Homo sapiens: one gene and its partners. The main gene of each other region encodes a partner of the protein of the gene in region 3 in a complex. Each region holds a gene or a part of one and is shown on either strand. Other genes may lie near its edges. The genes, in order: PRPF3, SNRPD1 and LSM7.

Evidence for each region.
Region 1: LSM7 (region 3) and PRPF3 share a complex: the UniProt entries of both Homo sapiens proteins name them as parts of the precatalytic spliceosome.
Region 2: LSM7 (region 3) and SNRPD1 share a complex: the UniProt entries of both Homo sapiens proteins name them as parts of the U4/U6-U5 tri-snRNP complex.

The regions. Positions count from the first base shown.
Region 1 is NC_000001.11:150,334,899-150,338,552, forward strand, and holds part of PRPF3 (U4/U6 small nuclear ribonucleoprotein Prp3), read left to right. Parts: intron 1-36; coding exon 37-343; intron 344-3,261; coding exon 3,262-3,428; intron 3,429-3,654. UniProt on the Homo sapiens protein: Plays a role in pre-mRNA splicing as component of the U4/U6-U5 tri-snRNP complex that is involved in spliceosome assembly, and as component of the precatalytic spliceosome (spliceosome B complex).
Region 2 is NC_000018.10:21,615,213-21,618,866, reverse strand, and holds part of SNRPD1 (small nuclear ribonucleoprotein Sm D1), read right to left. Parts: intron 1-3,654. UniProt on the Homo sapiens protein: Plays a role in pre-mRNA splicing as a core component of the spliceosomal U1, U2, U4 and U5 small nuclear ribonucleoproteins (snRNPs), the building blocks of the spliceosome.
Region 3 is NC_000019.10:2,320,926-2,323,362, forward strand, and holds the end of LSM7 (U6 snRNA-associated Sm-like protein LSm7), read right to left. Parts: intron 898-2,437; coding exon 755-897; 3' UTR 596-754; downstream 1-595. UniProt on the Homo sapiens protein: Plays a role in pre-mRNA splicing as component of the U4/U6-U5 tri-snRNP complex that is involved in spliceosome assembly, and as component of the precatalytic spliceosome (spliceosome B complex).

The DNA of each region.
Region 1 (3,654 bases), on a different chromosome or scaffold from region 3:
CATACAGGATTTATTTCTTTGCGGGCTATTTTTCAGGAAGGTGGAGTTAAAAGACCAAACGAAACCTACACCACTGATCCTGGATGAGCAAGGGCGCACTGTAGATGCAACAGGCAAGGAGATTGAGCTGACACACCGCATGCCTACTCTGAAAGCCAATATTCGTGCTGTGAAGAGGGAACAATTCAAGCAACAACTAAAGGAAAAGCCATCAGAAGACATGGAATCCAATACCTTTTTTGACCCCCGAGTCTCCATTGCCCCTTCCCAGCGCCAGAGACGCACTTTTAAATTCCATGACAAGGGCAAATTTGAGAAGATTGCTCAGCGATTACGGACAAAGGTATCTGGCTTAGAGTATAACACAGAATTTGGAAAAAGTTAAGAAGCTGACAAGAAAACATTGTTAAATCTCTGTGTTCTAGGAAATTAGATAAATAGGTCATTTAAAGCAGCAGTCCTCAACCTTTTTGGCACCAGGGACTTGTTTCATGGAAGATAATTTTTCCCCTGGAGTAAGGATGGTTTCGTGATGGTTCAAGCACATAGCATTTATTGTGTACTTTATTATTATTATTTTTTTCGAGATGGAGTGTCGCTCTTGTTGCCCAGGCTGGAGTGCAATGGGGCGATCTCGGCTTGCTGCAACCTTTGCCTCCCAGGTTCAAGTGATTCTCCTGCCTCAGCCTCCCGAGTAGCTGGGATCACAGGCATGTGCCACCACGCCTGGCTAATTTTGTATTTTTGGTGGAGACGGGGTTTCTCCGTGTTGGTCAGGCTGGTCTCGAACTCCTGACCTCAGGTGATCTGCCCACTTTGTCCTCCCAAAGTGCTGGGATTACAGGCGTGAGCCACCGCCCCCGCCTTTTTTTTTTTTGGGCGGGGAGGGGGATGGAGTCTTGCACTGTTACCTGGGCTGGAGTGCAGTGGTACAGTCTCAGCTCACTGCAACCTCTGCCTCCTGGGTTCAAGCAATTCTCCTGCCTCAGCCTCCTGAGTAGCTGGGACTGCAGGCATGCGCCGCCATGCCTGACGAATTTTTTGTATTTTTAGTAGAGACAGGGTTTCACTATGTTGGCCCGGCTGGTCTTAAACTCCTGACCTTGTGATCTGCCTGCCTTGACCTCCCAAAGTGCTGGGATTATAGGCGTGAGCCACTGTGCTGGCCTATTTCTATTATTATTTTATTGTAATATATGATGAAATAATTATATAACTCACCATAATATAAAATCACTGGGAGCCTTGAGCTTGTTTTCCTGCTGAAATGGTCCCATTTGGGTGTGATGGGAGACAGTGACAGATCATCAGGCATTAGATTCTCATAAGGAATGTGCAACATAGCCCCCTCACATGTACAGTTCACAATAGGGTTCGCGCTCCTCTGAGAATCTCATGCCACCGATGATCTGACAGGAGGTGGAGCTCAGGCCATAATGCAGGTAATAGGGAGCAATCGTAAGTACAGATGAGACTGTTGGCTTGCCTGCTGCTCACCTCCTGTTGTGCAGCCCAGTTCCTAAAAGACTGTTGGGTTGGGGACCCCTGATTTAAAGCAATGAATACTTTGAAAAATGTGCTGGACAAGATGGCTCAAGCCTGTAATCCCAGCGCTTTGGGAGGCCGAGGTGGGTGGATCACGAGGTCAGGAGTTCAAGACCAGCCTGCCCAACATGGTGAAACCCCGTCTCTACTAAAAGTACAAAAATTAACCGAGCGTGGTGGTGGGTGCCTGTAATCCTAGCTACTTGGGAGGCTGAGTCAGGAGAATCACTTGAAACTGGAAGGCAGAGGTTGCAGTGAGCTGAGATCGCACCACTGCACTCCAGCATGGGCAAAAGAGCGAAACTCCGTCTCAAAAAATATATATATATATTTATTAATATAATACATAATTTTTTTAGCAGATTTTACTTCCTAATTCGTTTCTACATAAGTGGAAATATTATGAAATTGAGTTTGAAAATTCTCCACATACAACTAAGTGGAGGGAAACAATTTGAAACATTCTGAGTGACTAAGGAAGGCTTGCCTGTAGTTAAAATTTAATGAGACAGTACACCTGGAGAGTTGAATTGATTGTATATTGAATGACCTTTGCCGCCTTTTTATCCTCTCAAAGTGAGGTTTTCATAAAATTCCTTTTTTTTTTTTTTTTGAGACGGAGTCTCGCTCTGTCACCCAGGCTGCAGTGCAGTGGCACGATCTCAGCTCACTGAAAGCTCCGCCTTCCAGGTTCATGCCATTCTCCTGCCTCAGCCTGCTGAGTAGCTGGGACTATAGGCGCCCGCCACCACGCCCGGCTAATTTTTTTGTATTTTTAGTAGAGACGGGGTTTCACCGTGTTAGCCAGGATGGTCTCGATCTCCTGACCTCATGATCCTCCCGCCTCGGCCTCTCAAAGTGCTGGGATTACAGGCGTGAGCCACCACACCCGGCCATAAAATTCTATTTCTGCGTATTTACTGCAGGCATATACTGTGGAGTGCAGGGAGGGGTTGAAGGTGAGATCTATGTATATGAACTAAATAAAGGATAAAATAAAGCAGAACAACTCCTTTCTAAGCTTTCAGAAATTATGAACTTGTTGCGTTAGGTGTAAAGAGTTCAACGGGGAAGTGTTTTAAAATTTGGGATTCTTGGCCGAGGTGGGCGAATCACTAGGTCAGGAGATCGAGACCATCCTGGCTAACATGGTGAAACCACTTCTCTACTAAAAATACAAAAAAATGAGCCGGGCGTGGTGATGGGCGCCTGTAGTCCCAGCTACTCGGGAGGCTGAGTCAGGAGAATGGCGTGAACCCGGGAGGTGGAGCTTACACTGCACTGCACTGCAGCCTGGGTGACAGAGTGAGACTCCGTCTACAAAAAAAAAAAAAAATATTTGGGATTCTGGCCGGGCACAGTGGCTCATGCCTGTAATCCCATCACTTTGGGAGGCCGAGGCGGGCAGATCACCTGAGGTCGGGAGTTTGAGACCAGGCTGAGCAACGTGGAGAAACCCCATCTCTACTAAAAATACAAAATTAGCTGAGGGTGGTGGCACATGCCTGTAATCCCAGCTACTGAGGAGGCTTAGGCAGGAGAATCGCTTAAACCTGGAAGGTAGAGGTTGCTGTTAGCCAAGACCATGCCATTGCACTCCAGCCTGGGCAAGAAGAACGAAACTCCGTCTCAAAAAAAAAAAAAAATTGAGATTCTACACATTCTGTTTTCTATGACTCCAATTTATCTTTCTGTCTTGGATTATCTTGTTTTTAGGCTCAACTGGAGAAGCTACAGGCAGAGATTTCACAAGCAGCTCGAAAAACAGGCATCCATACTTCGACTAGGCTTGCCCTCATTGCTCCTAAGAAGGAGCTAAAGGAAGGAGATATTCCTGAAATTGAGTGGTGGGACTCTTACATAATCCCCAATGGCTTTGATCTGTGAGTTTGTTTTAGTACCTTTTTAAAAAAACAGTTTTTAATCAGCTGAGTTTAAGACTCAAGTTAATACCTTTTAGTAAAGCTATGGTTTTAGTGGGAAGGATGGTACTCATTCATTAATTAAAATTTTTAAATCCAAGAGAGATAAGTAACTGTACACAAGGTCCTGTTATTTTTTTTTTTTTTTTTTTTGAGAGGGAGTCTCGCTCTGTCACCCAGGCTGGAG
Region 2 (3,654 bases), on a different chromosome or scaffold from region 3:
CTGAAATGTTTTAATGAATAAAGGGAAACCAACCTTAAAATGCCTTTTTTTAATTTCTTTTTTTTTAGTGGTATAGACAGCCATCACAAAAAAGAAATTACTTGGTCTGGGATATAACAAGCCTCAAACTTTAAGAAGACTCATGAGTTGAATCTCTTTTTATATATGACATCAAGAAAACGTTTTTCTCAACGAATTGGTAACACTTTATTTCACCAGAGAGTTATTCAGCTCCAAATTTAACAATCAATTATAACTAGAAAAGCCTAGAATTCTGAACTAATGGTTTCCTCCCATTATCAAGTTTTTGTTTTTATCTTTTACACGAATTTACTATCCCAGTTAGTAAGAACTTTTACTATAAAAGTTCTTCAAATCATTTTTGGAAGCAAAGAAGATAAATAAAAGGAAAAAAAAAACCTTATGTGGCCAGGCGCGGTGGCTCAGATACATAAAAGATACGTAAAAATAACTAAGTTGTAGAAAGCAATAAAGATATACAGAGGTTTTTTTTGTGTTTTTTTTTAAACAGAGGTTTTTAGTTTAGGTTTTTTCTGAGACTATGCCACCATGCCCGGCTAATATTTTTTAAATTTTTAAATTTTTTGTAGAGATGTGGTTTTGCCATGTTGCCTAGACTAGTCTTAAACTCCTGAGCTCAAGCAATCAGCCTGCCTTGGCCTCCCAAAGTGCTGGGATTACAAGCGTGAGCCACTGCACCCAGCTACACACAGGTTTTTTACTAAGAATATATTGTAGCATGTGGAGAGGGGAGTCAGGTATTAGGGGACTCCTAGTAAGAAGCCTGAAAAGTTGGAAATATGCAGCAAGAAGAAACAAAAGAAAAAATACAGCATAAGACACAGAGTAATTATAGATACAAAGATGGAGTCTTGTTCTGTTGCCCAGGCTGGAGTGCAATAGCGCAATCTCAATCTGAGCTCATTGCAACCTCCGTCTCCCGGGTTCAAGAGATTCTTGTGCCTCAGCCTCCCAAGTAGCTGAGACTACAGGCGCATGCCACCACACCCAGCTAATTTTTGTATTTTTAGTAGAGACGGGGTTTTACCATGTTGGCCCAAGTGATCTGCCTGCCTCGGCCTCACAAAGTGCTACGATGACAAGCATGAACCACCACGCCTGGCCGATGAAATGTTAAGTTCAATATTTTAGGTCCTATGAGTAGAGAGGAGTTAGGCAGGTTCCTTTCATGGAAAGCCTAAGCTCTGTTAAAGAATTCCTCTAGGAGAGCTACTGAAGGATTTTCATCAATGAAGTGGAGTACCAGGCTCATATTCACATTTAAAAGAGAACCTAGGGCCAATGTTCAGAAACAGATTTTAGAAAGACAAGAGACCAAAGTATAATCTCTAGGAAGACAAATTATGTGACTAGAGCAGTACATATACAAGTTAAAACTACAGTAATCGAGACATAAGGAACAACAAATAGATCAATGAAACAATACAAGCAAACAGATCTATTTCTGGTCCCACATTTACATGGTTGATTTAGCTGGGATTACAGGCACTCGCCACCACAACCAGCTAATTTTTGTATTTCTTTTTGTTTTAGTAGAGCCGGGGTTTCACCATGTTGGTCAGGCTGGTCTCGAACTCCTGACCTCAGGTGATCTGCCTGCCTTGGATTCCGAAAAGTGCTGGGATTACAGGCATGAGCCACCAAGCCTGGCCTTATATGGTTGATTTTTTACAAAGGTGCCAAAGACGTGTAACAGGCAAAGGAAAGTGTTTTCAACAAATGATGCTGGAATAACTGGAAATCCATACAGAAAAAAAACGAACCTGGACCACTAACACCATTTTCCAAAAGTAATCCAAGATGGATGATAGTCACTTGAGCCCAAGAGTTCCAGATATAGGCTGGGCACAGTGGCTCACGCCTGTAATCCCAGCACTTTGGGAGGCCAAGGCAGGCAGATCACAAGGTCAGGAGATCGAGACCAGCCTGGCCAAAGTGGTGAAATCCCATCTCTACTAAAATACAAAAAAAATAAGCCAGGCATAGTGGCACATGCCTGTAGTCCCAGCTACTCGGGAGGCTGAGGCAGGGGAATCACTTGAACCTGGGAGGTGGAGGTCGCAGTGAGCCGAGAGTGCGCCACTGCACTCCAGTCTGGCAACAGAGCAAGACTCCATCTCAAAAAAAAAAAAAAAGACTTAAAGAGTTCCAGATACATAAAAATCGATCAGTCAGGCATGGTGGCTCACGCCTGTAATCCCAGTACTTTGGGAGGCCAAGGCGGGTGGATCACAAGGTCAGGAGTTCGAGACCAGCCTGACCAACATGGTGAAACCCTGTCTCTACTAAAAATACAAAAATTAGCCAGGCGTGGTGGCAGGCGCCTGTAATCCCAGCTACTTGGGAGGCTGAGGTAGGAGAATCGCTTGAACCTGGAAGGCAGAGGTTGCAGTGAGCTGAGATCGCACAATTGTACTCCAGCCTGAGCTACAAGAAGAGAGACACTATTAAGGAAATGAACATGTAAACCACACACTGAGAGAAAACACATCTGACAAAGAACTGGTATCCAGGACACAGATCTAATTTCTACAACTCTGGGCTGGGCGCAGTGGCTCACGCCAGTAATCCCAGCACTTTGGGAGGCCAAGGCGGGCGGATCACGAGGTCAGGAGATTGAGAACATCCTGGCTAACACGGTGAAATCCCGTCTCTACTAAAAATACAAAAAATTAGCCGGGCGTGGTGGCAGGCGCCTGTAGTCCCAGCTACTCGGGAGGCTGAGGCAGGAGAATGGCGTGAACCCAGGAGGCGGAGCTTGCAGTGAACCAAGATCATGCCACTGCACTCCAGCCTGGGTGACAGAGTGAGACTCCGCCTCAAAAACAAACAAATAAGCAAAAAACCGACTAAACCCTAAGGAGATACCACTACATACCCACTAAAATGGCTAAAATTAAAGACTGAGCAAACAACACCACATACTGGTGAGGATGTGGACCAATTGTTATTCTAATATATTGTTAATGGAAGTGTAAAATGGTACAACCACTTTGGAAAATGGTCTGGAAATTTCTTAAAAAGCTAAACACATAACTATGTTACAGTCCATCAACTCCACTCGAGTATTTACCCACGAAAATTTGTTTCCCTCCAAAAACCTGAAGAATATTCAACGTAGTTGTAAACAAAATACATAACTTTTTATTTTATTTTCTTGTAATTTTTTAAAATACGGAGCTTTTTTTTTCTTTTTTCTTTTTTTTTGAGACGGAGTCTCGCTCTGTTGCCCAAGCTGGAGTGCAATGGCGTGATCTCAGCTCACTGCAATCTCCACCTCCTGGGTTCAAGGGATTCTCCTGCCTCAGCCTCCCTTGTAGCTGGGATTACAGGCACCTGCCACCATGCCCAGCTACTTTTTTGGTATTTTTAGTAGAGATGGGGTTTCACCATGTTGGTCAGGCTGGTTTCAAACTCCTGACCTCAGGTGATCTACCCGCCTCGGCCTCCCAAAGTGCTGGGATTACAGACGTGAGCCACTGCGCCCGGCCTAAAATACAGAACTTCCAAACACACAATGCACTAATATCCAGTAATAAAAATGAACACATTACTGATACACTTCACAATGTGGATGAATCTCAAAAACATGTAACTAAAAGAAGTTTTACG
Region 3 (2,437 bases):
GAGCCACTGCACCCGACCTCAGGACATGCTGTGAGCACGGAAGGAACCCAGAAGGGGCTGGCTGTAGGTGACCAGTCCATCTCACAAGCGGGGGCAGCAGCGGGGGCAGGTGTTAGCTGCATGGGCTGTGGGGTCTGGCCTCTTGATGCACCCCGGCTCCTGATGCACCCCAGCCTCCTGATGCACCCCGGCTCCTGATTCACCCCAGGTCCTGACACACCCAGCTCCTGACACACCCAGCCTCCTAATGCACCCCAGCCTCCTAATGCACCCCGGCTCCTGACGCACCCCGGCCTCCTGATGCACCCCGGCCTCCTGATATACCCCAGCCTCCTGATGCATCCCGGCTCCTGATGCACCCCAGCTCCTGCTGTCTTGGGGGCGGGCCTGGGGTTCCACAAGCCCCTCATCAGACTGAGGTTCCAAACTCGCCTGTCTCGGCCTTGGCTGTGCCCGCCTTGGTCACTCCTGAACCCTCACCCCCAGGAGGGACCATGGCTGGTATTTGATGAGCTCCAGGGACTGAGTCCAATCTCCAGGAATCCAGGTTTCCTCAGAAGGTCAAGGGAAAAGCAAGATTCGGGGCTCAGACACATTGAGGTTTGCAATTTTATTAAGAAAACAAAAATTCAACCTATACAAAAAGGAAAATGCTTCCGTTCCAGGAGGCGGTACTGCGGTGGGAGCAGCAGCCAAGTCCGCGGGAAACCGAGCTGCTCGGGCCTGCCCTGCACCCCCCGCGCCCCCGGCCAGGCTAGGCGTCCTGCTGCTGGATGAAGGGGTTGGGGATGGCCTCCATGCCGTCCTGCGGGCAGATTAGCACCACGGACGTGCCCCGGCACACCACGAGGCCCAGCTGCCGGGTGTCCTCCGTGAGCTTGTACTGGTCGTCAGGGTCTGGGGAGGAGCAGATAGAGAGGACTGAGGGACCTCCAGGAAGCCTCCGAGACCCCCCACCCACCCAAGACCCTCGCTCCGACCTCCCCACCTGCACCCTGCAGGCGCCACGAGCACGCAGGGACCTCAGACGGGATGCGCTCTGTGGGGCAGGTCCCCGGCTCCCACGGCTGAGACCCATGGCCCCTAGAGACCAGTGGCAGCTCCACAGACAGCAGCCACAGCCCTCCCTCACTCCACAAACCATGGGAACAAGAAGGCCCAGGTGATAGCCGGCTACCCCGCGTCTCAGAGCTCACTGGGGCCCAGGCACCAGGGCCGGGAACCAGGTTATCAGATGGCCGGCCAGAATACAGGCACCCTGGGCCTCCTGGTCTCTGCAAGGTCCCTGGAGCCCTAGGGGGCCAATATTCACCCTATAACAAAGAGGCTGGGGGCCGGGCGCGGTGGCTCACGCCTGTAATCCCAGCACTTTGGGAGGCCAAGGCAGGCGGATCACGAGGTCAGGAGATCGAGACCATCCTGGCTAACTTGGTGAAACCCCGTCTCTACTAAAAAATACAAAAAAATTAGCCGGGCGTGGTGGCAGGCACTTGGAGTCCCAGCTACTCGGGAGGCTGAGGCAGGAGAATGGTGTGAACCCAGGAGGCGGAGCTTGCAGTGAGCCGAGATCGCGCCACTGCACTCCAGCCTGGGTGACAGAGCGAGATTCCATCTCAAAAAATAAAAAAATAAAGAGGCTGTTCATGTGGGGTGGGGACCATGTGGGCTGGCACCCCAGGGAAGTGCCAGCAAGCCCAAGACAAGCTCTCAAGAGGCTGAAGGCGATTAAAACTCCTCACTACTGTGGTCCTGCAGTGGTGGGGGCATGGGAGAACCATGGGGCCCAGGTTTTTAAACTTTTTTTCAGACACCAGGTCTTGCTCTGTTGCTCAGGTTGGAGTGCAGCAGTGCAATCACAGCTCACAGCCTCAACCTCCTGGGCTCAAACAATCCTCCTGCCTTAGCCTCCTGAGTAGCTGGGGCCACAGGCACATGTACCGCCATGCCTGGCTAATTACATTTTTTTTTTTTTTGTAGAGACAGGGTCTCACTATGTTGCCCAGGCTGGTCTCAAATTCCTGGGCTCGAGTGATCCTCCTGTCTTGGCCTCCCAAAGTGCTGGGATTACAGGCATGAGCCACCATGGCCAGCTACAAGAATAAATCTTGTCTCAGTATCAATGGATCCAAGGGGCAAGACCCTCTCTCTCCTAAGTCCTGACATTCCCCCAGTGCCCGGGCCGGGATGGGGACTTGCCAGCTGGGGACTTGCCGCAGGAGCTTCTGGGGGAGAGTCTGAGGACTTGGCGGCCTCACTGGGGAGGGGAGCGAGCGGGGGCAGGGAAATGAGGGAGGGTCCTCTGGGGAGGAGACAGGGACCCTGCGTTCATAGCGGGAATTAACAAGGGCAGAAGAGGAAAGGCGCCCGAGAGGAGCCCCACGGCACGCTCACTACCCCACAGCAAGGCTGCTCTCCGCTGGGCGCCACAGCTCACGCC